Homo sapiens: one gene and its partners. The protein of the gene in region 1 purifies or fractionates together with the protein of each later gene. This does not show direct contact. Each region holds a gene or a part of one and is shown in the gene's direction. Other genes may lie near its edges. The genes, in order: LMCD1, NMNAT2, TPD52L1, PCTP, OSBPL11, SLC15A1 and USP46.

Region 1 (3,500 bases):
GTGGGACACAGGTTTTGTGAGGGCAGCCAGCTGGCATAACTTTTGTCATTATACTGTTAAGAGTTTTATCAACTGGCTACCGTCTAGCAAATGATACTAAAGAAGAGGTTTAAAAGCAGCAACTTTTCTTTGGTGATAGAGGCAAACTAGTAAATGTAATTATTACCATTAATTGAAAGTCAGAGAACAGAGCAAAATGAGCTTTATTCAAATTCTGATGGAAAACCTAGCCCATGAGTAAATGTAGACTCCTTTTTCTTTCCACTGCCATCCAAAATTGAAAACTACAGTGTTCCTTGGAGAATAAGCAATAAAATAATGATTATTATTAGCAAGTAGACAGCTAGCTACTTAACCAACAGATAGAGCACACAATAGCAGATGCAAACAAGTGTCTCTTTCTCACACGCAAGATTGTTCCCTGTCCCACACCATGACATGGGCTGGCCCAGTCACAGGAGAAACAGAACCCACTGACCAAGGACTCATGTTAAATGGTACACACGCACAGAAAATAGCATTTAAATACATTAAGTACAACCCTACTTGTTATTTGTTCCAGGCAGAAAGAAGACTGGGTGCCCTTATTTAATAAATATACTATTGTCTGGAACGATAAACACAAAGTTGTTGGCAAGCTGTTACCATGAGCCAATAAGGTGTAAGTTTTTAAAATCCTTTTTAAAACAAAGGACAGTCATACACCACTTAATGCTGGGGTTTCGTTCTGAGAAATGTGTCCTCAGGTGATGTTGTCTTTGTGTGAATGTCAAAGAATGCACTTACACAGCCAGGCGCGGTGGCTCATGCCTGTAATCCCAGCACTTTGGGAGACCGAGGCGGGTGCATCACTAGGTCAGGAGATCAAGACCATCCCGGCTAACACGGTGAAACCCTGTCTGTACTAAAAATACAAAAAAATTAGCAGTGGCGGGCACCTGTAGTCCCAGCTACTCGGGAGGCTGAGGCAGGAGAATGGCGTGAACCCGGGAGGCAGAGCTTGCAGTGAGCCGAGATCACACCACCGCACTCCAGCCTGGGCAACAGAGCGAGACTCCATCTCAAAAAAAAAAGAAAAGAATGCACTTACACAAACCTAGATGGTGTAGCCTGCTACGCATCTAGGCTACGCAGTATAGCCTATTGCTCCTAGGCCACAAATTGTACAGCATGTGACTGTACTGAATACTATAGGCAATTGTAACACAATGGTCAGTCAGTATTTGTGTATATAAACATATCTAAACCTAGAAAAGGTATAGTGAAAATAGAGTATGATAATCTTATGGGACCACTATGGTATATGTGGCCCATCGTGGACTGAAATGCCGTCATGTAGCACACGATCATACAGTATGCATATGGCAAAGTGCGTGCATCTGATGTGTACAGCTTGATGAGCTTTGACACAGATACATTTCCATGGCCCTTTCACCAAGATTGAGACACAGAACACTCCCTACATACACAAGGTAGCTAAGGGATGCGTGTTTTTCCTTTACTAAAGTTTTTTCTCTCATGTGTGTTTTATTTGTCACAATGGACAGTATTGCTTTTGTAATTTTCTAAAATTACAAAAGTAATCTAACTGCATTAAGTTAAGAAAATAAAGACTGTGGGTCTTTCAGTTGCTGAGAATGCTGGAAGAGAATGCATTTTCAGTTTTAGGTAGATTCTGTCATAGTTTCTTTGACTGATGAAGCCCCATCCACATCATGTTGTCTCTTCCTCCTCCTCCTCCCTAGGGACTGCAGTACATGGAGCTCATCCCCAAGGAGAAGCAGCCAGTGACAGGCACAGAGGGTGCCTTTTACCGCCGCCGCCAGCTCATGCACCAGCTCCCCATCTATGACCAGGATCCCTCGCGCTGCCGTGGACTTTTGGAGAATGAGTTGAAACTGATGGAAGAATTTGTCAAGCAATATAAGAGCGAGGCCCTCGGCGTGGGAGAAGTGGCCCTCCCGGGGCAGGGTGGCTTGCCCAAGGAGGAGGGGAAGCAGCAGGAAAAGCCAGAGGGGGCAGAGACCACTGCTGCTACCACCAACGGCAGTCTCAGTGACCCGTCCAAAGAAGTGGAATACGTAAGTTTCTCCCATGCTTCCAGCCAGGCTGAAACCATGCAGGCCCAGGGCTGGACAGTCAGGGCCCCATCACGGGGCTTTGTTCCCTCATTCATGCATTTATTCATGAATTTGTGCATTCAGCAGATATTGATTGCTCATTTAGTCTGTGCCAGGCACTGTCCCATGGAAAATGATACAATACCACTGCCCTTGAAAGGCTCATAGTCCAGTGGCGGTCACAGGCAAAACCGAAACAGTTTAGAGAAGGGACATCTAAGCCTGCTTGGTGGTGAGGGTAAGCTTCAAGAAGTTGGTGAGGTACAAGCTGGTCTACGAAGAATGTCTAGGGGTCATCCAAGCCTTCAGGCTTTGAGGGGAGGATGTGTACCCCCTTAAAGAGGTGAGCATTTGCAAAAAGAGCCAGGAGTTCAAGAAAGCACAGTGCATTTAGAAGATTAAAAGAAGTCCCACGTGATTGAAAGTGTGGCATGCTTGGGGAGCTGGGGACATGAGGCTAGGGAGGGCAGCAGAGGCTGGATTCCTGGAGGGTTCATTCCATCCATCCATTCATCAGTCAAATACTGATTAGCTTGTATTAGCTGCACTGCCCCAGGAAATCAAACAAGCAGAGGACACTGTCCCCAAACTGCAGAATGCCATGAACTTAGTTAGGACTTTATTCCAAAGGTCATAGACAGGCTTTTGGTCAGAGGTACATGGTCCATGCTGTGCTTACAAAAGTTTCCTCTAGCAGTGTCTTAGTACATTTTCTGTTACTTATAGCAGAATACCTGAAACTGGGTAATTTATAAAGAAAAGGAATGTATTTCATACATCTGTGGAGGCTGAGAAGTCCAAGGCCAAGGGGCTGCATCTGGTGAGGGACTTCTTCCTGGTGAGCACTCTCTGCAGAGTCCTGAGGTGGCTCAGGGCATCATGTGGCAAGGGGGCTGGGTGTGCTAACTCGGGTCTCTCTTCCTCTTCTTAGAAGCCAGTCCCACTCGTGTGATAACCCATTAATCTATTAAGCCATAAGTGGATTAATCCATTCCTGAGGACCTGAGCCCTCACGACCCAATCATCTCTTAAAGGCCCCACCTCTCAATACTGCCATGCAGAGGATTATGTTTCAACCTGAGTGTTTGGAGGGGATGTTCAACCCATAGGAAGTGGCAGTGTGGAAGAAGTGCTGCTGAGGAGTGAGTCACTGGGGGCCATTTTGAGAAAACAGAAAGGAGAAGCCAGAGTTGGGGAGATGAAAGCCTCATGGCTTGGTTTGTCTTAAACTGCCCCACAGAAGGCGAAAGGAATGCTTGAGGCTGGACCACGTGGGTCTAGCGTGTACTGCGTTTCTGGTCCCCAGCCCCTGTTTTACCTTTTGCTCCTCCTGCCCCATCAACCAAGTGTCTTCATTTGTTTCTATGGCAATTAACTTTT
Region 2 (3,500 bases), on another chromosome or scaffold:
CCAGTTATTTATGAACTATTTCCTCCTTTTAAATTGCTTTAAAAATTTTCTCTGTGACAACACGGAAATAATTAATACAACTAAATTATCAAACTTTTGGCCAGGTGTGGTGGCTCACTCCTACAATCCCAGCACTTTGGGAGGTGAAGATGGACATTAACACATGAGCTCAGGAGTTTGAGACCAGACTTGGCAACATGGTGAAACCCCATCTCTACAAAAAATATAAAAATTAGCCAGGTATGGTGTTGCATGCCTGTAGTCCCAGCTACTGTGGAGGCTGAGGTGGGAGGATGGCTGAGGTGGAAGCCTGGGAGGCAGAGGTTGCAGTATGCCAAGATAGCACACTGCACTCTATTCTAGGTAATACAGCCAGACTCTGCCTTAAAAATTTTTTTTCAAGCTTTCTTTAAGGTGACTGAAATTTGTAATAATTTTTTTTTAAAAAACAGACACAAACAAGACTTTGAAATTAGGCATTTTAAATAGAGCTCCTATATCCTGAAATTCAATTTCTTATCAAAGGAAAAAGAGAGACTGTAAACAAAAAGAGAAGTGACATTCAAAACTCACTCTTCATCTTTGTAAAGTAGCACTTGTACAATTCTCAATATTTGTAAATATTTTTAGAATGAACTTTTCTTTTACTCTGAAAGGGAAGTTGATATTATTTCTCCTATTTGAAACTATAGAAACATACAGGAAAAAATAGTATTTGTGAGAGATATTTGACACTTGTATACTCAACTGTAACTAAAATGCTTTCAGGGATGAGTAAAAGTTTTTGGCAAAGTAAACTCATAAATGAGTGATGTCATATCTCATGGGTCTGCCTCATTACATAAGAAGATAATGTGGAATTGGAAGTTTTAAAAAATGTAACTGCTTAGTTTTTAACTATGTAGAGATTATAATTTAATGTAGCTTTCTTTACATTTATAGCTATATTTGTCAATAAATCTACCACTGGGAAGTCAGAGAGCAAGTTTAAATAGAAAAGTAAGAAAGGACAGCTCAGATTATTTTGGCTATATAAACAAAAACAGAGGAATTGGGGAATTTCATCACAGCAGAAATATTTCTAGCTATTTTTTGTATTTTTTTCTATTTTAATTTGTAGATATAGGGTCTTGCTCTGTTGCCCAGGCTGTAGAGCAGCAGCAGGGTCATGGCTTCCTGCAGCCTCAAACTCCTGTTTCTGCTAGCTGCAGTTTAAATCCATGACTCCAAAAACTATTATCTTTTCACTGCGCTCTGATATTGTCTCCAAAAATTACCAAAGTCTAGCATCTTTCCTCCTTTTAAGCCAGTCAGAGGTCTAATGCCTGACAGAGAGGAATAACCAGGTTGCAAGGAGTCATTCATTCAGGTCGGGTGGTTAATATCAGGGAGAGCTTTCTGAAATAAGCTTCAGTGAGAACAATTGGAATTGGAAACTTATGGCAGCCGCTGTTTTTGAAAATTAATATTTCTAGGCCGGGCGCGGTGGCTCATGCCTGTAATCCCAGCACTTTGGGAGGCCGAGGCGGGCGGATCACGAGGTCAGGAGATCGAGACCATCCTGGCGAACACGGTGAAACCCCATCTCTACTAAAAACACAAAAAAATTAGCTGGGCGTGGTTGCGGGCGCCTGTAGTCCCAGCTACTCAGGAGGCTGAGGCAGGAGAATGGCGCGAACCCGGAAGGCGGAGCTTGCAGTGAGCCGAGATCGCGCCACTGCACTCCAGCTTGGGCGACAGAGCGAGACTCCGTCTCAAAAAAAAAAAAAAAAAAAAAAGAAAGAAAAGAAAATTAATATTTCTTTAGAAAAATCATATTTCTTCGAAAAGACCCACAATACTGATAACTCAAATGGCACAAGATCTACTATAATCATTTTCCAAGTACCCCAGCCTGTGGCATAGTAGAGTCTCATGCTTAGGCTGGGTGCATGCTCACAGCCACCACCGTGCTCTCCAGCAGTAGTCCCTCCACCAGCATCCAGGAGAATGTGACCAAAAACAGGAGGACATGGTGCCTGTAGTCCTAACTACACAGGAGGCTGAGGTGAAAGGTCCGCTTGAGCCCAGAAAAAGAATTGAATTTGGTCATTTCTGGCTGTGACCAAGGCCATCCTCCTGGTATTGGCTCCCTCCTCCCTTTACATCTTCCAGTGTCTCCATGATTTGTAAACTCTGCAGCAAAGGCAAATATTACGACCACTACTAGTATCATCATCTTCCCCATTATCATCCTAATCATGAAGCCACTTTATTTGAACTTCTTTAAACCATACTGCCATTAAGCTATTTTTTCTTAAATTTAATGCATAATTCTCTTTAGCATTATACAAGTGAGCCAGCCAGGAAAATTCTTATAATCATGGCAATAAGAGGTTAAGAGGAGGAAGTAGCAAAGGAGCAAGACTCTGAGGCTAACCCCTGGAAGTGATGGCAGCTAAATAGCATTCTTTTTCTGTTTTTCCTCCTACATCAAATTGCCTCCACATGAATAGACATGCTGCAACATATTGACCTCATTTAATATTTACCAGGCAGTAGAAGAGATAGTAAAGCATATTCCCTAGATAAGACTAAATGCTTATAGTTTTATTCTTGTTTCAGTTTCTTAGGCCAAAAACCTTGGACTAATGCTTAATTATTCCCTGTTTTGGACACACTATTTATGTCCAAATGTTTTGGAATCTCTTTATCTTCAAAATATAACTAAGACCAACAACCTCTCTCCATCTACATCCCTGGTGCAAACCACTGTTAACTTTCATTTGAATTATTGCAATAGCTTCTTAACTGGTCTCTCTGCTTCCACTCTTGGTTGCAACACTCATTTCTTAACAAATTATCAGAGCGATCCTTTTGGCCGGGCATGGTGGCTCACACCTCTAATCCCAGCACTTTGGGAGGCCAAGGCAGGTGGGTCATGAGGTCAGGAGATCGAGACCATCCTGGCTAACAAGGTGAAACCCCATCTCTACTAAAAATACAAAAAATTAGCCGGGCGTGGTGGCACATGCCTGTAGTCCCAGCTACTTGGGAGGCTGAGGCAGGAGAATCACTTGAACCCGGGAGGCGGAGGTTGCAGTGAGCTGAGATTGCACCACTGCACTCCAGCCTGGGAGACAGAGCGAGACTCCGTCTCAATAAACAAACAAACAAAAAAACAGAGTGATCCTTTCAAAATGTAAGCCAAATCTAAGTCAGATCATGTTGCTCCTTTGCTCCAAATCCTCCAGAGCTCCGTATCTCTGTCAATCAAAGTCAAAGTCATCATCATGGCCTACAGGCCTCCATGATCAGCCACTCTGCCCCCCACCTCCACCCTAACGCATCTCTTCCACTTCATTCTTAGCTAACCCCATGGAACATCTTTGCTTTGGCCTTAGAGTCTTTGTGCTGAATGTTCCCTTTGCTGGGAATGCCCTTCCCCACCTAGCCCATGTCTCATTCGCTCCCCTCCTCCAATTCTTTACTCAAATGTAACCTTCTCCTCATTGTCCACT
Region 3 (3,135 bases), on another chromosome or scaffold:
GTAAGTTAATTCCTTCATGTTTCTATGCTTAGTCAATAACAAATACACAAGAAAAAAGCCTCATAAACCATCATAACTGCATTGTAAGGAATATTCATACTGTAAGGGTGTATTAATTCCATTTCACGCTGCTGTGAAGAAATACCTGAGACTGGGTAATTTATAAAGGAAAGAGATTTAATTGACTCACAGTTCCACAGGGCTGAGGGGGCCTCAGGAAACTTACAATCATGGCAGAAGGGGAAGTAAATATGTCCTTCTTCACATGGTGGCAGGAAGGAGAAGTGCTGAACAAAAGGAGGAAAGCCCCTTGTAGAAGCATCAGATCTTGTGAGAACTCACTCACTATCACGAGAACAGTATGGAGGTCACCGCCCCCATGATTCAATTACCTCCTACCAGGTTCCTCCTTGCTAGGATTATGAGGACTATGGGAACTACCATTCAAGATGAGATTTGGGTGAGGACACAGCCAAACCATATCAAAAGGCAGTTGCCTAAGATGATGTGAAATCACCAGTGATTAAGACTTGATCCATCTTCAATTTTCAAAGCAGAAACCAGAAATCATTTTCCATTGAGCCACTCTGACTTTTCAAAAGACATTTGTCAGAAATCCAGTTTGCCCTGCTAACTCCCAAGTAGAAAAATCTAAGTTTAGGTCATGTAAGGATGTTTATACATTTGTACAATTGGAGGAATTAATAAAAAATCTAATTCCATTTTGATTAGATCAGTTCTCTGGGTGAGTGGAGATAGCTGTTCCAAGTCCATGGATCCGATTATGCTCCTGAAGGGATTAAAATCTTAGATACAGGAGAGATAAAGAGAGGGTTGCTAAAAGTGTGCAAAATTAAAGTTTGGAATCCTATCCGAGAACCCAAGTATGAATAATATTCTAGCACTCTACTAAAGGAAACAAACTTCTGTGCATTCTTTTGTCTCTAAAGATAGAAAGTATTTCTGAATTTGAAAGTAATCCAGCTTTTGGTATTCTTATAAAAACATTACAAAAATGATAGTAACAACTAACTGCATTTTTGTGGATCTGCTCATTTCAGACGAAAGTAGGCGGTACGAACCCTAATGGAGGCAGTTTTGAGGAGGTCCTCAGCTCCACGGCCCATGCCAGTGCCCAGAGCTTGGCAGGAGGCTCCCGGCGGACCAAGGAGGAGGAGCTGCAGTGCTAAGTCCAGCCAGCGTGCAGCTGCATCCAGAAACCGGCCACTACCCAGCCCATCTCTGCCTGTGCTTATCCAGATAAGAAGACCAAAATCCCGCTGGGAAAAACCCAGGCCTTGACATTGTTATTCAAATGGCCCCTCCAGAAAGTTTAATGATTTCCATTTGTATTTGTGTTGATGATGGACCACTTGACCATCACATTTCAGTATTCATAGATGACTGTCACATTTTAAAATGTTCCCACTTGAGCAGGTACACAACTGGTCATAATTCCTGTCTGTGTAATTCGATGTATATTTTTCCAAACATGTAGCTATTGTTTGCTTTGATTTTTGCTTGGCCTCCTTTATGATGTGCATGTCCTTGAAGGCTGAATGAACAGTCCCTTTCAGTTCAGCAGATCAACAGGATGGAGCTCTTCATGACTGTCTCCAGCAATAGGATGATTTACTATAAATTTCATCCAACTACTTGTGATCTCTCTCACCTACATCAATTATGTATGTTAATTTCAGCAATTAAAAGAATTGATTTTAATGACTTTGAATTCTTAATTTCTTTGTCTTAAAAGTTGCTAGTTATGATTTTACAGATGCAATTTTAAATCAACTTTTAGCCAGGTGCGGCGGCTCACACCTGTAATCCCAACTATTTTGGATGCCAAGGTGAGAGGATTGCTTGAGGCCAGGAGTTAAAGATCAGCCTGGGCAACACAGACCCTGTCTCTACAAAAAAAGAAAAAAATTAGCCAGACATAGTGTTGCTTGCCTGTAGTCCCAGCTACTCTAGAGGCTGAGGCAGGAGGATTGCATGAGCCTAGGAGTTCGAAACTGCAGTGAGCTATGATTGCACCACTGCACTACTCCAGCCTGGGTGACAGAGTGGGACACTGTCTCCAAAAATAGTAATAATAAGTAGTCAACTTTTACTGCTAATTTGGTGAACATGAGAGAGGATATGAAAATAAATATTACCTCAGCTATCCTAGGATGTTAAAATAATCTCCAATTTTAAAATTCTCTCCAATCTACATACAGTAGTAGTTAGTCAGATAAAGGATATCCAAAAAAGAGATAGCTAGAAAATGGGAGAAGCAGAGTTCTGCAACCCCTTTCAGTTTGTAAATTGTTCACATGTATGAAAATAACTGGTATTTATCAATCCACTCAGATTTCTGCACTAACTTTTATCTTATATATCATATGTATCTCTTTTCTTTTTCTAAATGGGAACATATATTTGTTATTAGGTGGCAGAGATATAGCCTTAAGATATATTTGTAAAATGCACACTGAATAGACATCCAACCTAAAAAAAATCACTATTTAAAAAGCCCATATAATATATACATATTTGTTAGCATGCTAATTGTTCATGTTTTGTGTTTATTAAATAGAAGTGATATATATGACATTTTGAAGTAAAGCACATCTGAAAAATTCTACTCAAATTAATGGAGCATGACAATCTGTGCAATCTGTACACCTAACTGAAAATCAAGGTGGTTCAGGACAACATCATCTCTGAGGCCTGGAATCTTAGCAGAGAGAATGGGGCTGTAAACTTGACCAGAGTGGACAAATGTAGACAAAGAAAGCTCACTAGCAGGGATGCTGGCATTCTCCCTTATTTGTGCTTCCAGCCTGTTGGTTGAAGTAGAGGCAGGAAACCAACCCTGCCCAGCTGGTTCTCAGGCCGTGCTGGCTCGCCCACCACAGCACACAAGTACTCAGTCTCTGTGCCCAATCTATAGCTGCCTGTTGAGTGTGAAGTGGCTAACTTGTGAAAACTCCCTGCCACCTTCTTTTTTTACCATATTCAGCACACCGCATTGTATTAGATAAAGTTATGGTACTTTAAACAAATATCTCCGTTCACCAACCAATTTCTGCACACCATAGTCTCAGCCTTATAATCTGAAAACACAATATTAGAATTGGATAGAAAAAC
Region 4 (4,194 bases), on another chromosome or scaffold:
TATCAAATCAAACCTTTATAATGGATTCCTTGAAGATACTTGAAAATACTTCATAGCCAATAGTTTTTACACAATTGGTTTTTCAAGCAATGAATTTCCATTTAAATAAAATATGGATTTACAATACATAGAAAATTTACAAGGAGTTATAAAACAGTGGGAAAGTATGTCTAGCCTAAACTTTTGTGCATTTAGTCTAGGAAAATTTCACATCCCTCTTTCCACACCTATAAAGCCAAACAGAACCAGGACTGACTTGAGGAAAGCAATTATTTATCTCTGCTGTGTCTAACTAAGCAAGCTGCCAAATGTGATCATTTGCCTGATTGGAAAATCACATAAATTAAGACTTTGCCATCAACTTTCTTTCAAGTAAGGAAAGAAAAGCATTTCAATATAGTAATGCAAAACAAGTGGAAATTGTTATTGAACATTTACTTGGACGGGCACTGTGGAAAATTATTCCTTGTCCAACCACCTCCTCAGCTGTAACTGGTAGCACAATTCTTGACCCATTTTACAGATTAGGAAACATGAGTTTCCAGAGTTTATTGGCACTCACGTGGCTGTTACATCGTTTTGATGTTCAAACGACCTACTTTATTCAAAGTCAGGTAGTACAGTCTGCTGGTGGGAAATACAGTATTACTCAAGGGACTTCAAAGGAACAAGAAGATGTTTGAGTTGCACAGTGAGCTAAATTATGCAAGTTGCAGAAATCCTAGGTGGATAGTACGACACCTTTCAGATCAGTTTCTACCCTCAAGGGTGGCAACAACCTTGTAGATCCATTATGGATTAGGTTTCTAAACTGTTTTGGTGTTATGAACCCCTAGAGTCTTCTGGGGAATCCAATGGACCTCGTCTCAGAATAATGTTTTACAATGTATAGCAGAAAGAAGAGAAATTATATTGAAATACACTTCTGGCATTTGACCCCTTAGGATTTTTCCAGCATTTCTACTCTGCCCACCTCTCCTCTCATGTCTACCAAAGAGACTTTCTCTACTTTATTCAGAAAGGTAAATGAGAGACACTCAAACAGGTCTGTAGGTTATGGGAGTAGCAGGGAGTATGGGATAGGCTACTGAGGAGCTGTTTTTGAGGTGACATCACTGTCTCCCTTCCTTTTTCCCTTCCCTCTGGAAGCCTCCTTACTTCTCCAGCTCTTCCTTCCTTCCCCACATCAAGTCCAATTTTTCTCCTTTTACTTCTTGTCTATCCTCCTCACTCCTTGCTCAGCCCCGCCCGCTTTTCTAGGCCCGCCCCTCCAGGGCCCCACCCTCAGGCCGCTCCTCCAGTCTAGGCCCCGCCTTCTCCTCAGTTTCCTGCCAATGACGCTGGGGCAGCCGGGGCAGCCGGGGCAGCCCGGTCACCCCGCCCCCAGGCCCACACTAAGGGTGTCCGCGGCCTGCCCTCCAGGCGGAGGAGCCCGGACTGCGGAAGGATGGAGCTGGCCGCCGGAAGCTTCTCGGAGGAGCAGTTCTGGGAGGCCTGCGCCGAGCTCCAGCAGCCCGCTCTGGCCGGGGCCGACTGGCAGCTCCTAGTGGAGACCTCGGGCATCAGCATCTACCGGCTGCTGGACAAGGTAGCGGCCAACCCGCTGGAGGACCGCGGGGCCTAGAATGCGCCGGGGTCGACCTCCCCGCAGGGAGTGCGGGGCGGCAGTCGCGGAAGGGACAGGGGCGCGTCTTCTCCGGCTCAGGAAGGAGCTCCGCCCGGACCCTGTCTCAAGCTCTGGAGCTAGCGCAGGGGCGGTGCCTCCAAGTGACTGCCGTGCAGATCCAGGGGAGTTGGAAGGTCACAGGAGTTCAGCCTCAGGTCAGGCCCGACGGGGCATGTAGTTAGAAGTTAATGACAGTTGAAACGTGGGTCAGCTGGTTCCTAGGCCCGTGCACACGTCTGCAAGGGACGTTGATCCTCACTCTCCAATGCGTGTCAGTGGCATATGGGGGCTGGGGTGGGGGAGGGGCGGTATCTTAGGGCTTGGATATAGGAGGAAAAGAAACAGAACTTTTCAAGGACTGGATGTGCAGGGTGGTGTCAGGGGTTGCCGAGAAGGGCCCTACTGTTTTAGTGACTCGTTTCTTTTGGTTGTTGCCCCTTCCTTCCAAGTTGCTCTTAATAAGTTGAGTCCGAATCTTCAGGCAGGAGTAAAGATGTAGGAGGAATGGGATTGGTTGTTGAAGTCTTTGGAATCAGGTAGCCATCCAGGTGGAAGGCATTGCCCCTGAGGCCTGTCATCCAAGGCTTGTCATCAGTTGCTTTGTGTAATAGTCGCAGCATGGCAAGTAGGTTAAAAGTCGCCTGCAGGTAATGTGGGTGAAACTGAAGTTTCCTAATACAGGACCAGGATATTATAGTGTTAGAGTTAGGAGGATACCTCATGCTCACCTGGTTAAACCCCAGGTTTCATAGGTGAAAGCAACAGGCCTCAAGGGTGAAGTCACTCCTGAAATGGCCCAGATAAGTGAATAGCAGAGGTGGGATTGGAGGGTTCATGATCTTGTGAATGTCAAACATGTGGTTGCCTTTTTAGGCACTTGCATTTTTGTTTACATCAAATATAGTGTTTTTATATTTTAAAACAGAAAACAAACGTTTGCAATATTTAGAAGTTGCTCACCTGTTAAACAGGAATGAAAACTCTGCCTGTCTCATTGCAGGAATGAAAACTCTGCCTGTCTCATTGCAGGGTTGTTAGGGGGTTCAAATCCAATCTGTCAGATATGTGTGAAAATTTGATAGCTGTAAATAACTCTACAATGCACAGGACAGTGACCCCATACCTCTCCCGGGGAAGAATTATCCAGTCCCAAATTGTAATATTGCCAAGGTCAAGAAACCCTACTCTAAATAAATGGAGAATATAGGTATTATGAAGAAATTTCCTGTCTAAATACATATATATTTGCTTTGGATGCAGTCCGTCCCTCTCCAGTTAGTGGGACTGTAAAACATGCTATTTGGAATACTTACAAATTAGTAGGGCTGGCCTTTACATAATCCAGAACACAGCAGATACTGCAAGTGGCTAAGCTGCCATATTTACTTTTTTTCTGTATACAGATGTTATATCTTGATGGATTACTCACTCAACAAACTCTGAATGCTTGCTGTGTACTAGGACCATTGGGTTTAACAAGATGATCAAGAAGTTCACAGTCTAGAACAGGCAGAATTAATTTCTTAGGGTAACTTTAAAAGGTACCTTAGTTTGAAAATTGATACATTTTCAGAAAAAGTCTTTCTTTTAATTTTTATTTTTTAGAGATGAGGCCTTGCTATGTTGCCCAGGTTGGTCTTGGAACTCCTGGGCTCAAGCAGTCCTCCTGCCTCAGCCCTCAGCCTCCCAAAGTGCTGGGATTACAGGGATGAGCCACCACACCCAGCCAGGCAAAATTCTTTTATCTTCTCTGCTATTCCATTTTTCTTACCAGCCACATCAAGGCTTTGGCCAAGTTTTGTTGATTCAACTGCTCAGACGTGTCTAGCATCTGGCTTATTTCCTCCCATTTTCTTTCCTTTATCTTTGCTACTTTGGGTACTCAGCACCCCTCACTTAGAATTGCAGTGACCTCTTAACTAGTTTTTGGCCTACCAGCTCTCTGCTCCTGTCTATCCTACACCTTCCAGTGCAGTCAAACATCTGAGAAGCAGTGATCTTATCACTACCTTTTCAGTGGCCTATTGATTGCAGAAATAATAATAATCATCACTGTAATAGCTAACATTTATTGCATGATTTCTTATAATTCAGGTGCTAAGTGTTTTGGAAGTATTGATTTACTCAATCCTTGCATCAACCCTATGATAAGGTACTATGATGATCACCTTTTTACCTATATATAAATGAATGCATAGAAAGGTTAAGTTGGTTTCTCAAGATTCCAGCTAGGATCCAAACCCAGCTGTCTGCCTCCAGTCCTGTGTCTTCAACATGCTCCTGCATTGCCTCTCCAAACAGAAGGCAAATGCTGCCTGGTGGGTACACTGAACTAATTTGGTCTCAACTCACATTTCCATCATTCTCTCCCATTACCATAGACCTGACATCTTCTCCTCTAGCGAGCCCAGACCGCTGTGCCATCTTCCCTGTATACAGACGAGGCAGTTGAGGTCCAGGGAAAGTCAGTGGCATATACAAAGCACACGGCTAAGAAGTGGTGAATAAAACTGGGATTTAGATCCAAG
Region 5 (3,972 bases), about 120 Mb from region 1:
ATTACGGGCACGCACCACCATGCCCGGTTAATTTTTGTATTTTTAGTTGAGAATGGGTTTCACCATGTTGGCCAGGCTGGTCTCGAACTCCTGACCTCAAGTGATCCGCCCACCTCGGCCTCCCAAAGTGCTGGGATTACAGGCGTGAGCCACTGTGCCCAGCCTCAAGTCATGTTATTATAAACTAAAATTAGCAATTAGGAGAGACTTTAGAAATCTACCCATGCACTCTTGTTTTACAAATCCAAAACCAAGGCCTAAACAAGGTGAAAGATTTGTCTGGGGTCTGGAAGAGTACCTAGCTCTGTTCTGAGATCTCTAATTTCCATGACAGCTTCTTTTTAATTTATAATAATGATTGGCTTTACTCCAATGTCATGCTTGCCCCCCCCCCACCCCAAGTAACTAAAACGTACAGATGTTTGCTTCGTTCTTGTACTTTCTTATTTTTGTAAGCTTTCTTCCTAAAATGCCTGGAACGGCCCCTCAAATGGAAGGCTAGGACGTGGTTAGGAAGGCGGGCACTCGGCCGGGCGCGGTGGCTCACGCCTGTAATCCCAGCACTTTGGGAGGCCGAGGCGGGCGGATCACGAGGTCAGGAGATCGAGACCATCCCGGCTAAAACGGTGAAACCCCGTCTCTACTAAAAATACAAAAAACTAGCCGGGCGTAGTGGCGGGTGCCTGTAGTCCCAGCTACTTGGGAGGCTGAGGCAGGAGAATGGCGTGAATCCGGGAGGCGGAGCTTGCAGTGAGCCGAGATCGCGCCACTGCACTCCAGCCTGGGCGACAGAGCGAGACTCCGTCTCAAAAAAAAAAAAAAAAAAAAGGAAGGCGGGCACTCACACACCAGAAGGGAACTCTCTAGTGCTGCTGGCTCCTTTGTTTCTTCCTCCTTCACTGTCCGGGTTCCTCGTTCCGTTGCGGCGCCCTCCCTCGCCCTCCCTCGCCCATCAGCCAGTCGCCCAGCTACCAGCTCCCAGAGCCTCCGCCTCCTTCAGGGACCCGCCGCCCTGACCCAAGATGGCGCCAGACGCTTCGGCTGTGAGGGAAGTGAGCTCACGCTACTCCGGAAGGGAAGGCGGGAAGGGAGCAGGGGGCGGGGGGTGGCTGACCCGCTGTGGGGCTGTGGGGCTGTGGGGCTGTGGGTGGGGCGGCGGCCGCGGCCCTGGCATTCGCGCTTGGGTCTGGAGATAGCGCGAGAGACTCACCGGCTCCTGGGAACCCAGTCGAGGGCCCGGGCCAGGGGCATAAGAGGAAGTTGTCCCGAGTGGCTCGCCTCTGGCCCTGGGAGAGGCGGCCCCGGGAGCCGGCGTCCCGCCCCCGGCGGCCTCATTCCCCGACCCTCCTCCCCGGCTGCGCGCGCCGGCCCTGGCTGTATCTCGGGGGCTGCGGCGGGAACTGCCGAGCGGGCTTGACTGGACGCACTGCCTGAGGACCTGCGGAGGAGACGAGGGAGCGCGGCGGGTCAGCCCCGAGGTTAGGCCGCGGGTCCCCTGTCCGTGGCGCTCCGTCCTTTTCCCAGCCGTCTTGGCTACAGAATCTGCGACCTCCCCACACTCCTTCTCTTTTGAGTATGTCACTTAAGTCTTCTCGCCGGATGCTTTTTCCTCCTTGCTTTTGCCGGAAAGGAGAGAGATACATGTGAAGGATATCTGTCCTCGTTGCTTCCCCTGCCCTCTCAAAAGTTTAACTTCTGTGGGAATGTGTATCTTCCTTTTCTGGACCATTTGACAGTCCCGCCCCAGCCGCCGTGTGATTTAGCAACCGGTATCATATTCAGATCAAATCTTAAAAAAAAAAAGTCACCTACAGAACTACAGAATTGTTCTCTCCCGCTCAAGAAGGGCAAGTGGACTTTGGCGTTAAGATGCAGGGGGGTGAACCAGTGTCCACAATGAAAGTCTCGGAGAGCGAAGGAAAGCTGGAGGGCCAGGCCACAGCGGTGACCCCGAACAAGAACAGCAGCTGTGGAGGTGGAATCAGTAGCAGCAGCAGCAGCCGCGGTGGCAGTGCAAAAGGCTGGCAGTACAGGTATGCTCCTTTCTCCAAAATTATTTCCCGAGGTGGAGGTAGGGGTGAATATGCCCTGGAGGCTGCATCCCGCAATTGTTGAAAGATAAAAGTTTTTTCACTGGCTTCCAGAAGCTACTGATACATCTCGTTTGGATCTGGGACCTCGCCTAAAAGATTTAATCCATTCATTTGTTCATTCAACAGGTATTTATGGAAGGCCTTTTGAGGAACACAGAAATGTATCCCTGAACTTCCTCTACAGTCAGAGAGTTAATGCTTCCTCAGATTTAATTCTGTACTCACTTCTGCTTTTGCCTATGTTGCAATTTATTTACAAGCCAGCTTTCTCTGATAGACTGCGAGGGCAGGAACTGTTTAACTCAGCTTTCTCGAGAGGGTAGCAAATACTGGTGCTCAAAACTTACTTGTCCAGAGCTTCTCCAGAATCAGAAAAGATTCTTGCCCTGAAGGTATTTGTGACTTGGAAAGGGGAATGTACATAAGTAATTGGAATGCAAGGACAAAGGTAGAGATCCTAATGCCTCTGATAAACTAAACCTGAGCCTGGAGATGTTCAGTTTGCGTTGCTCAGGCCACTTCAATGCTCTCTGTGTTGATGAGAAAGTCTATATTTGTTAATTTTCACTAATATGAATGAACAACTTAAGGAACAGGAGGAGAGTCCTGGAGAGGCAACAAGTTTTGTTTTTGTTTTTTCATATATGAAGTGTAGGGAGAAAGAACTATCCAGAACCTTAAGAATGAATGAAACAAACCAGCACATCCCATCGTATTGGAACTAAAGGGATGAATTCTTAAGTTTTGATTGACTCCTATGTGCCTAACTGTAGTCCTTTTTAGCCTTTGTGCTTATTTGTGCTTGTGAAATTTTTGTGAAACTTGGAAGGGATTAAAGCCAAGATTTTGTGAGGGATATACATTTATCATGAATAATATTCATATGTATGAAATATGCATGACTATATTAACATATAGAAGTGAAGTATAGAAGATTATAATTTTTTTTTTTTTTTTGAGGCAGAGTCTGGCTCTGTCACCCAGGCTGGAGTGTGGTGGCGCGATCTCGGCTCACTACCACCTCCACCTCCTGGGTTCAAGCGATTCTCGTGTCTCAGCCTCCCGAGTAGCTGGGATTACAGGCGTGCGCCACCACACCTGGCTAATTTTTGTATTTTTAGTAGAGATGGGGTTTCACCATGTTGGCCAGGCTGGTCTCGAACTCCTGACCTCAAGTGATCAGCCCTCCTCTGCTTCCCAAAGTGCCGGGATTACAGGCTTGAGCCACCGCGCCTGGCCAGAAGATAACTTTTTATTGGTAAGTGACTGTAGGATAAGAAGATATATTCAGTTAGTTTGAGAGGTCTAGGCCCGCTTTTGGAATCAGCATGATTTTTTTGTATGTGTGTGACCTGTGGCAGGGGCCGCGGGTCCCCTGTCCGTGGCGCTTCGTCCTGACCTGCTATGGGGCTGTGGGTGGGGCGCCGCCGCGGCCCTGGCATTCACATTTGGGTCTGGAGAGAGCCGGGAGTCTATTAAGTTGGTTGTGAGGTGCCTTCGAATGTTATTTTTGGTTTACAACTTTCTTGATGATATTGTTTGCAGCACAATGGTTTTTAATTTTCATGAAGTCTAATGAGTTTTTTCTTCTCTTGTTATAGTTTTGTGTCACATCTAAAAAAACATTGTGAAGTTTAAGATGACAAAGATTTACACTTATGTGTTTGTCTAGGAGTTTTGTTTTAGTGCTTATGTTTAGGTTTCTGATGCATTTTTAGTTCATTTTTCTTTATGATCATTTTTTTTTCTTTTGTGAAACATCTACATATGTGTTTTTTATACATTTCCTGTTAGGTCTTAATATTTTTCTTTTTAATATGCTTGATATCTCTTATTAAAATGTCAACATTAAATACCAATATTCCTTTAAAAATATTTT
Region 6 (3,500 bases), on another chromosome or scaffold:
TTGTTAACTGTAGTCACCGTGTTGTGCTACCAAACACCAGCTCTTATTCCTTCTACAGAACTGTGTTTTTGTATCCACTAACCTTGCTTCATCCTCCCACCTTCACCTACCCTTCCCATCCTCTGGTAACCACCATTCTACCCACTACTACCTCCATGAGATCAATTTTTTAGCTCCTACATATGAGTGAGAATATGTGATATCTATCTTTCTGTGCCTGGCTTATTTCACTTAACCTGATGTCCTCCAGTTTCATCTGTATTGCTGCAAATGACAAGATCCAACGACAACTTTCATAGAAATAGAAAAAAATCCTAAAATTCATATACAACAACAAAAGGCCTCGAAAAGCCAAAGTCATCCTGAGCAAAAAGAATAGGGCCAGAGGTACCACCTGATGTCAAAATATACTACAAAGCTGTAGTAACCAAATCAGCATGGAAACAGACACATAGACCAATGGAACAGAAAAGAGAACCCAGGAATAAATGCATCCATTTATAGCCAACTCATTTTTGACAAAGCTGCCAAGAACAAACACTGGGAAAAGAACAGTCTAAAGAATAATTTTCCAGTGTAGTGATTCCCAAAGCACACTGCCTGGACCAGTGGCAGCACCCACACCTGGGAGCTTGTTAGAAATGCAAGCTCAAGTGTCCATCTCAGGCCTACAGAATCAACAACTCCAGGAATGGGGCCCAGCCATCTGTTCTTGCAAGCCCTCTGGTGATTCTGAGGCACACTCCAGTGTGAGACCCACTGCTATGGGGTCACCGATTCCTAGATTCCTAATGGAGGTGGAGCATGTTCAGGGAGCCCTGGCAACAAAGAACTCTAATATAAGGAAATCGGGGTGAGTGAGGGGGAAGGGGATGGATGTCCTGTGGGAAACAGGGTAGTATGTGATAGACACGGATGAACACAGGGCAATGTGTTTGTGTAGGAGCAGAGTGAGGAGGTGTAAAGACTAGAGACAAGGGCACAGCTCAGCTCTTGCCAAAATTCCGGGGAGACAGAAGAGCAGGTGCTGACGGGATGGGGATGAGGCGCTCCTAGGATGCACATGGGAGAGTCCACTGGACTTGACGTGCACCAGCTCCCTTGTATTCTCAGGCTGTTTCTTCCTGCTCTTCTCATTCATTCTTGTGACATAACCCCCTACCAGTGGTAGGTATTGTACAGGACGTTGAAAGTGGGGATGTTGGTGTGATGGATGGCACATGATTCTTCTGCTTTCAGAACCTGGTCCAGAAGGGAAGCAAAAATATAAACTGCCCATCATTACAGTATGGTGATGTAGGCACATCAGAGATGATTTGGGAAGGGAATATCGGTGGCAAGACTTAAATCATGGGGTGAGCCTGGCAGGCAGGGCCCAAGCCATAGGAGGTGGCGGTTGAGTGTGCACAGTGTGTCAGGCACTCAGAAGCATTTTATATTACAGAAATTTCATCCCCACCAAAACACTTGTCAGATATTGAAGAACATGCTAGAATGTGTGGATTTTATCCCGATGGGCGGCCTTTGAAGTGTTTCAGGAGGAAATGGTTTAGGCCTGATTCTCTGAGCTGCTGCTTCTCAATTTTGACTGCATACGAGAATTGCCTGAGGAGCTTCTTAAAAGAAAATACAGATGCCAGGCCCCACCTCAGATAAGAAGCATGAGTCTGGGGCCGGGATCCCAGGGAGGGCTGGAGCTGTTTGGTGAATGGCCCCTCTGACCACCCTAAAAAGTCAGAGGCTCTGAGTTTAGACACAGCAAAAACTATTGTAATGGCTTGACTTTAATATTGGGATTCTGTTTTTCTTTTAGGAATGTCCAAATCACACGTGAGTACCCTTTTTCCTTCTCTACATATCTTCATCTTGTAAATTTTATCATCTGTTTTACCCCTAAGGGTTCATTCACCTAACAGATCTGTACATCTGGAACCAGTGAGGGTATGATCCCGGATTTCCATGTGAGATGTCCTCTCCTGAGGAAATGCTGTGGATAATCCTCCTCAGACTAACAATACCACTGGATGCTTTATTTCATTGCTGTCTCTATGTGGAAGGATTAGTGTAGGGAATAAAATGATTAAATGCTAGTTTCCTGCTCTAGACAGTCACCGGTAAGTTACTGAATCTGCGTTGGCTGCCTTTCATGCCACTGGTGCTCCTTTGTGGCTATGGACCAGTGGGGGGTGTATTTCAATCCTGTGCTTGTTTCTTTTTTGTCAGAGTTTCTTTGGTTATCCCCTGAGCATCTTCTTCATCGTGGTCAATGAGTTTTGCGAAAGATTTTCCTACTATGGAATGCGAGGTAACTGTATTGGCCGTTTCTCACCCTTCAGGGAAGAGCGGGAGTGGCCATAACCAGTCCTAACTTTGTTTCCCCCTCCTCTTCCACCTGCCCTCTGCAAAAGCAATCCTGATTCTGTACTTCACAAATTTCATCAGCTGGGATGATAACCTGTCCACCGCCATCTACCATACGTTTGTGGCTCTGTGCTACCTGACGCCAATTCTCGGAGCTCTTATCGCCGACTCGTGGCTGGGAAAGTTCAAGTGAGTGGCTGGAAATTTCTTGTTCACAAACAAGCGAAAAAGTAAATGTAGGTTTTGTAGTTGGGAATGGTGGAATCTGGGAATGATGAATCAAAGAACAGAAACTCTTAGGAGAGGCCAGGTGTGGTATGGTTCATACCTGTAATCCCAGCACTTTGAGAGGCTGAGGCAGGAGTTTGAAACCAGCCTGGGCAACATAGTGAGACCCATCTCTACCAAAAATAAAGAAATTAGCAAGGCATAGTGGCATACACCTGTGGCCCCAGCTAGCTGGGAGGCTGAGGTGGGAGGATCCGCTTGAGCCCCAGAGGTCAAGGCTGCAGTGAGCTGTGATCACATCACTGCACCCCAGCCTGGATGACAGAACAAGACCCTGTCTCAAAAACAAATTAAAAACAGAAACAAACCCTTAGGAGAGCATTTACAGCGCTGTTTCTGCTCAGTATCCTGTCCCTAGAGCCTGAAACAGTGCCTGACATTTAGTGACTGCAAGCAGCATCTATAGGTTTTTGTTTTTCCCTAATGCAAACAAATGTAGCATCTTTGTCACATCTTGACACAGTAGCAGGGATACTGTCTATTATTAGTGATGTGTGAGGCATGGAGTTAAGGTCTGGGGATATGAAGAAACTCTCTAAAATACCCCCTTGGCTGCTGAGGGGCTCACGCTGCTTGAGGTCACATGGTGTGAGGTCACTAAAGAGAGAAGTCACCCAGCCCTCCAGGAAGGGCTCCACGAGCACACCCAGTGGGATGTTGTCAGGAAAGTTTTCCTGGGACTTAATGAAGAAGGAAGTAGAGGCTCTTCCAGGCCAAAGGAATGACGTGGGCTGTCTTAGTCCACTTGTGTTGCTATAAAGGAATACCTGAGGCTGGGGAATTTATAAAGGAAAAAGGTATATTTGGTTGATGATTCTGCTGGCTGGAAGACCAAGCATCTGATGAAAGTC
Region 7 (2,842 bases), on another chromosome or scaffold:
TGGGACTGTGTTTTTCTTTCCTAGGCCTCACTTTGTCCTGGGATTTATAGGACAGGCCTGTCACTACCAAGGTGACACAAATTCTAGAGAATGTATTTTCCCATTTCTTCAAATTTCCTTTCCTCTCTTTTTATTGATACTTAAAATACCTTTACTAAAAAAATGAAGCCTTCCATTTCCATTCCCTTATATTTACATGAAGATAAAAATACTTACTAAGTCGTTGTATTTGTCCATTCTGGCAGTGCTATAAAGACATACCTGAGCGTGGGTCATTTCTGAAGAAAAGAGGTTTAATTGGCTCATGGTTTTATGGGCTGTACAGGCTTCTGTTCTGGGGGAGGCCTCAGGAAACTTACAATCAGCAGAAGGCAAAGGGAAAGCAAGCCCATCTTACATGGCAGGAGCAAGAGGAAGAGAGCAAAGGGGGAGGGGTTACACACTTTTCTTTCCTTTTTTTTTTTTAAGATGGAGTCTCACTGTCACCCAGGCTGGAGTGCAGTGATGAGATCTCAGCTCACTGCAACCTCTGCCTCCCGAGTTCAAGCGATTCTTCTGCCTCAGCCTCCCAAGTAGCTGGGACTACAGGCATGTGCCACTATACCCGGGTAATTTTTGTATTTTCAGTAGATACAAAGTTTTCTCATATTGGCCAAGCTGGTCTGGAACTCCTGACTTCAGGTGCCTCAGCCTCCCAAAGTGCTGGGATTACAGGCAAGAGCCACCTTGCTCGGCTGGGGTTACACACTTTTAAACAACCAGATCTCGTGAGAACTCAGTCATGAGGCAGTACTAGGGGGATGGTGCTTAACCACCTATGATGCAATCACCTCCCACCAGGCCCCACCTCCAACACTGGGGATTACAATTCAACATGGGATTTGGGTGGAGACACAGAGCCAAACCGTATCAGTCATTTTTCTTTTACTGAAGGAAAATTTTGGTTGTGGGGTTAGTACTAAAGATAGCCCATGTAGACTTTTTCTGAAGATACCCCAAGTGGAGAGATTTTTAATTAGGCATTTATTTGGCACCTATTGCATTCTAGGCATTGTGATAGGAGCTGGGGGATAAAAAGGTGACACAGATTGGGTCCCTCTTATGGACTCGTTTTTTGTCTCAGAAGACAAGTCTGGGTGAGAAAGAAATTTAAAATTTAAGTTGTGGAAATAACACGTGTGGGGGAAACTCCTTGCAATTCAGCACAGTTTGGTATTCAGCCCCAGCCTCAACATGCAGATGGCACTGTTGGATGAAGCCACACCATCTTTTTTCCTGGGAGCCCCACACTCTTCCCAGCCTGCCTTCTAGCTCAGGGACAACACATTTTGAAAAACAAAGTATAAATCGATTATGTTGCAACAATGAACTTCACGTTTTGCCTCTTCTCATGTTAAAAGAGCCAGTATCATGAAAGCCTCAACAGTGAGCTTTATGAATCAAATATCTGTTATTTCTAAACAATCTGTTTACATTATGACCAAATAATTAGAGCCTATCTAGACTTACCAAAATAAGATAGGGCATAAGCGATTTATTGGTGCATCAGCCTTTGTTTGCTTTTTAAGGTTCCTTTATGTTTTAAAGGGATTTGAACAAAAGACATCAGGAGCTTACAAAGGAAAAATAGCTTCATTTTGGTTATGAGATACCAGAGTCAGAAATGACATTAGATTGTATAGAAAAGACTTCTAATTGTGTGCTTACTTCCCACATGATTATAATAAACTATATATTAACAACCTTGGGATCGTACTCAGGTTGTCAATTACACGGATGCATCTTTCACTTTTTTCTTTCCCAAGAGTGAGAGAAAGAGTGAGGTTGTGCTTAAGGCAGTGTGGAATTCTACAGAAGCTCTTCTTGGAAAAGGAGTTCAGGCACTTGTGTTGTAGACTGCAGTCTGATTCTGTTCTTACTTCCTCTCAGCATAAGGGAGCTTTGAAAAGAAAACTCAGACTTGTATCCGACTTGACCAGAAGCAAAATAACTTGATCATTGAAGCCACTATTTCTGTGTATTTGATCAAGTCCTCCTCTGGAATCCAATGCAGCCATATTCATATTTCGGTCTCTCTTAATGGACCTTGCTGGAAAGAACATTCTGTGCTAAGAAAATGGAAAATAAACGTGAGAAAACTTTAAGAATGAGCCTTCACACCTCCTGCAGCAGGTGATAGCTCTGTACTTCAGAGCTTGTCTCCAGGTTGAGAATTACCTGTTTTCCACTCTGAGGGGATTAGAAAGATACTGTTTTAATGGGTTATAAAACTTGTGTGAAGAAGATTGGCCTTCTCCACCTCTCCTGTGAAATAAATTGTTTGAAAACTCTTTGAAGAGAAATGGCTTCAGTATATTGTTCTATCTCTGCTACCCCAAAGCCCAGAGAACAAATATTAAGTATAAATTGCTAGGCTAGGTATGTCATATGTGGCAGCTTTGACATGTAAACCAAAAGACTGAGCCAAGTCTCAATCAATGTACAGGTTATTTTGCCAAGGTTGAAGACACACTAGGGAAAAGAGACACAAGCTACAGTATGATCTATGGCCCCTACTTTCTCCAAAGAGGATTTTGAGGGCTTCAGTATTTAAAGGGGAAAAGTAGGCAGGAGGAGAAAGGAGGAAAGAACAAAAAAAAGAGGGAGAGCATGGTCACATTCTTAGGAGGCTTTGATTCACACTCACTGAATCCATGTGTTGCACGTGGCAAGGAATGGGTAGAGGAACAGTCGATTATGTATGTCCCCTGCTCAGTAAAACTGCACTTTACAAAAGATAAACAGAATAGGGGAAGAAGTCAAATATGCATTTATCTCAGGCTGGGCAGTGGGGATGGTTTGT

Evidence for each region.
Region 2: the proteins of LMCD1 (region 1) and NMNAT2 purify together in Homo sapiens (co-immunoprecipitation; one large-scale study listed by IntAct). This does not show direct contact.
Region 3: the proteins of LMCD1 (region 1) and TPD52L1 purify together in Homo sapiens (co-immunoprecipitation; one large-scale study listed by IntAct). This does not show direct contact.
Region 4: the proteins of LMCD1 (region 1) and PCTP fractionate together in Homo sapiens (co-fractionation; one large-scale study listed by BioGRID). This does not show direct contact.
Region 5: the proteins of LMCD1 (region 1) and OSBPL11 purify together in Homo sapiens (co-immunoprecipitation; one large-scale study listed by IntAct). This does not show direct contact.
Region 6: the proteins of LMCD1 (region 1) and SLC15A1 purify together in Homo sapiens (co-immunoprecipitation; one large-scale study listed by IntAct). This does not show direct contact.
Region 7: the proteins of LMCD1 (region 1) and USP46 purify together in Homo sapiens (co-immunoprecipitation; one large-scale study listed by IntAct). This does not show direct contact.

The regions. Positions count from the first base shown.
Region 1 is NC_000003.12:8,546,823-8,550,322, forward strand, and holds part of LMCD1 (LIM and cysteine-rich domains protein 1), read left to right. Parts: intron 1-1,745; coding exon 1,746-2,081; intron 2,082-3,051; coding exon of another isoform or gene 3,052-3,072; exon of another isoform or gene 3,073-3,500. UniProt on the Homo sapiens protein: Transcriptional cofactor that restricts GATA6 function by inhibiting DNA-binding, resulting in repression of GATA6 transcriptional activation of downstream target genes. Represses GATA6-mediated trans activation of lung- and cardiac tissue-specific promoters.
Region 2 is NC_000001.11:183,411,881-183,415,380, reverse strand, and holds part of NMNAT2 (nicotinamide/nicotinic acid mononucleotide adenylyltransferase 2), read left to right. Parts: intron 1-3,500.
Region 3 is NC_000006.12:125,261,773-125,264,907, forward strand, and holds the end of TPD52L1 (tumor protein D53), read left to right. Parts: intron 1-1,061; coding exon 1,062-1,190; 3' UTR 1,191-2,635; downstream 2,636-3,135.
Region 4 is NC_000017.11:55,749,657-55,753,850, forward strand, and holds the start of PCTP (phosphatidylcholine transfer protein), read left to right. Parts: upstream 1-1,394; 5' UTR 1,395-1,447; coding exon 1,448-1,588; exon of another isoform or gene 1,589-4,194. UniProt on the Homo sapiens protein: Catalyzes the transfer of phosphatidylcholine between membranes. Binds a single lipid molecule.
Region 5 is NC_000003.12:125,592,698-125,596,669, reverse strand, and holds the start of OSBPL11 (oxysterol-binding protein-related protein 11), read left to right. Parts: upstream 1-1,172; 5' UTR 1,173-1,869; coding exon 1,870-2,033; intron 2,034-3,972. UniProt on the Homo sapiens protein: Plays a role in regulating ADIPOQ and FABP4 levels in differentiating adipocytes and is also involved in regulation of adipocyte triglyceride storage. Weakly binds 25-hydroxycholesterol. Interacts with OSBPL9 to function as lipid transfer proteins.
Region 6 is NC_000013.11:98,725,173-98,728,672, reverse strand, and holds part of SLC15A1 (solute carrier family 15 member 1), read left to right. Parts: intron 1-1,813; coding exon 1,814-1,830; intron 1,831-2,223; coding exon 2,224-2,305; intron 2,306-2,408; coding exon 2,409-2,550; intron 2,551-3,500. UniProt on the Homo sapiens protein: Electrogenic proton-coupled amino-acid transporter that transports oligopeptides of 2 to 4 amino acids with a preference for dipeptides. Transports neutral and monovalently charged peptides with a proton to peptide stoichiometry of 1:1 or 2:1.
Region 7 is NC_000004.12:52,590,460-52,593,301, reverse strand, and holds the end of USP46 (ubiquitin carboxyl-terminal hydrolase 46), read left to right. Parts: 3' UTR 1-2,342; downstream 2,343-2,842. UniProt on the Homo sapiens protein: Deubiquitinating enzyme that plays a role in behavior, possibly by regulating GABA action. May act by mediating the deubiquitination of GAD1/GAD67.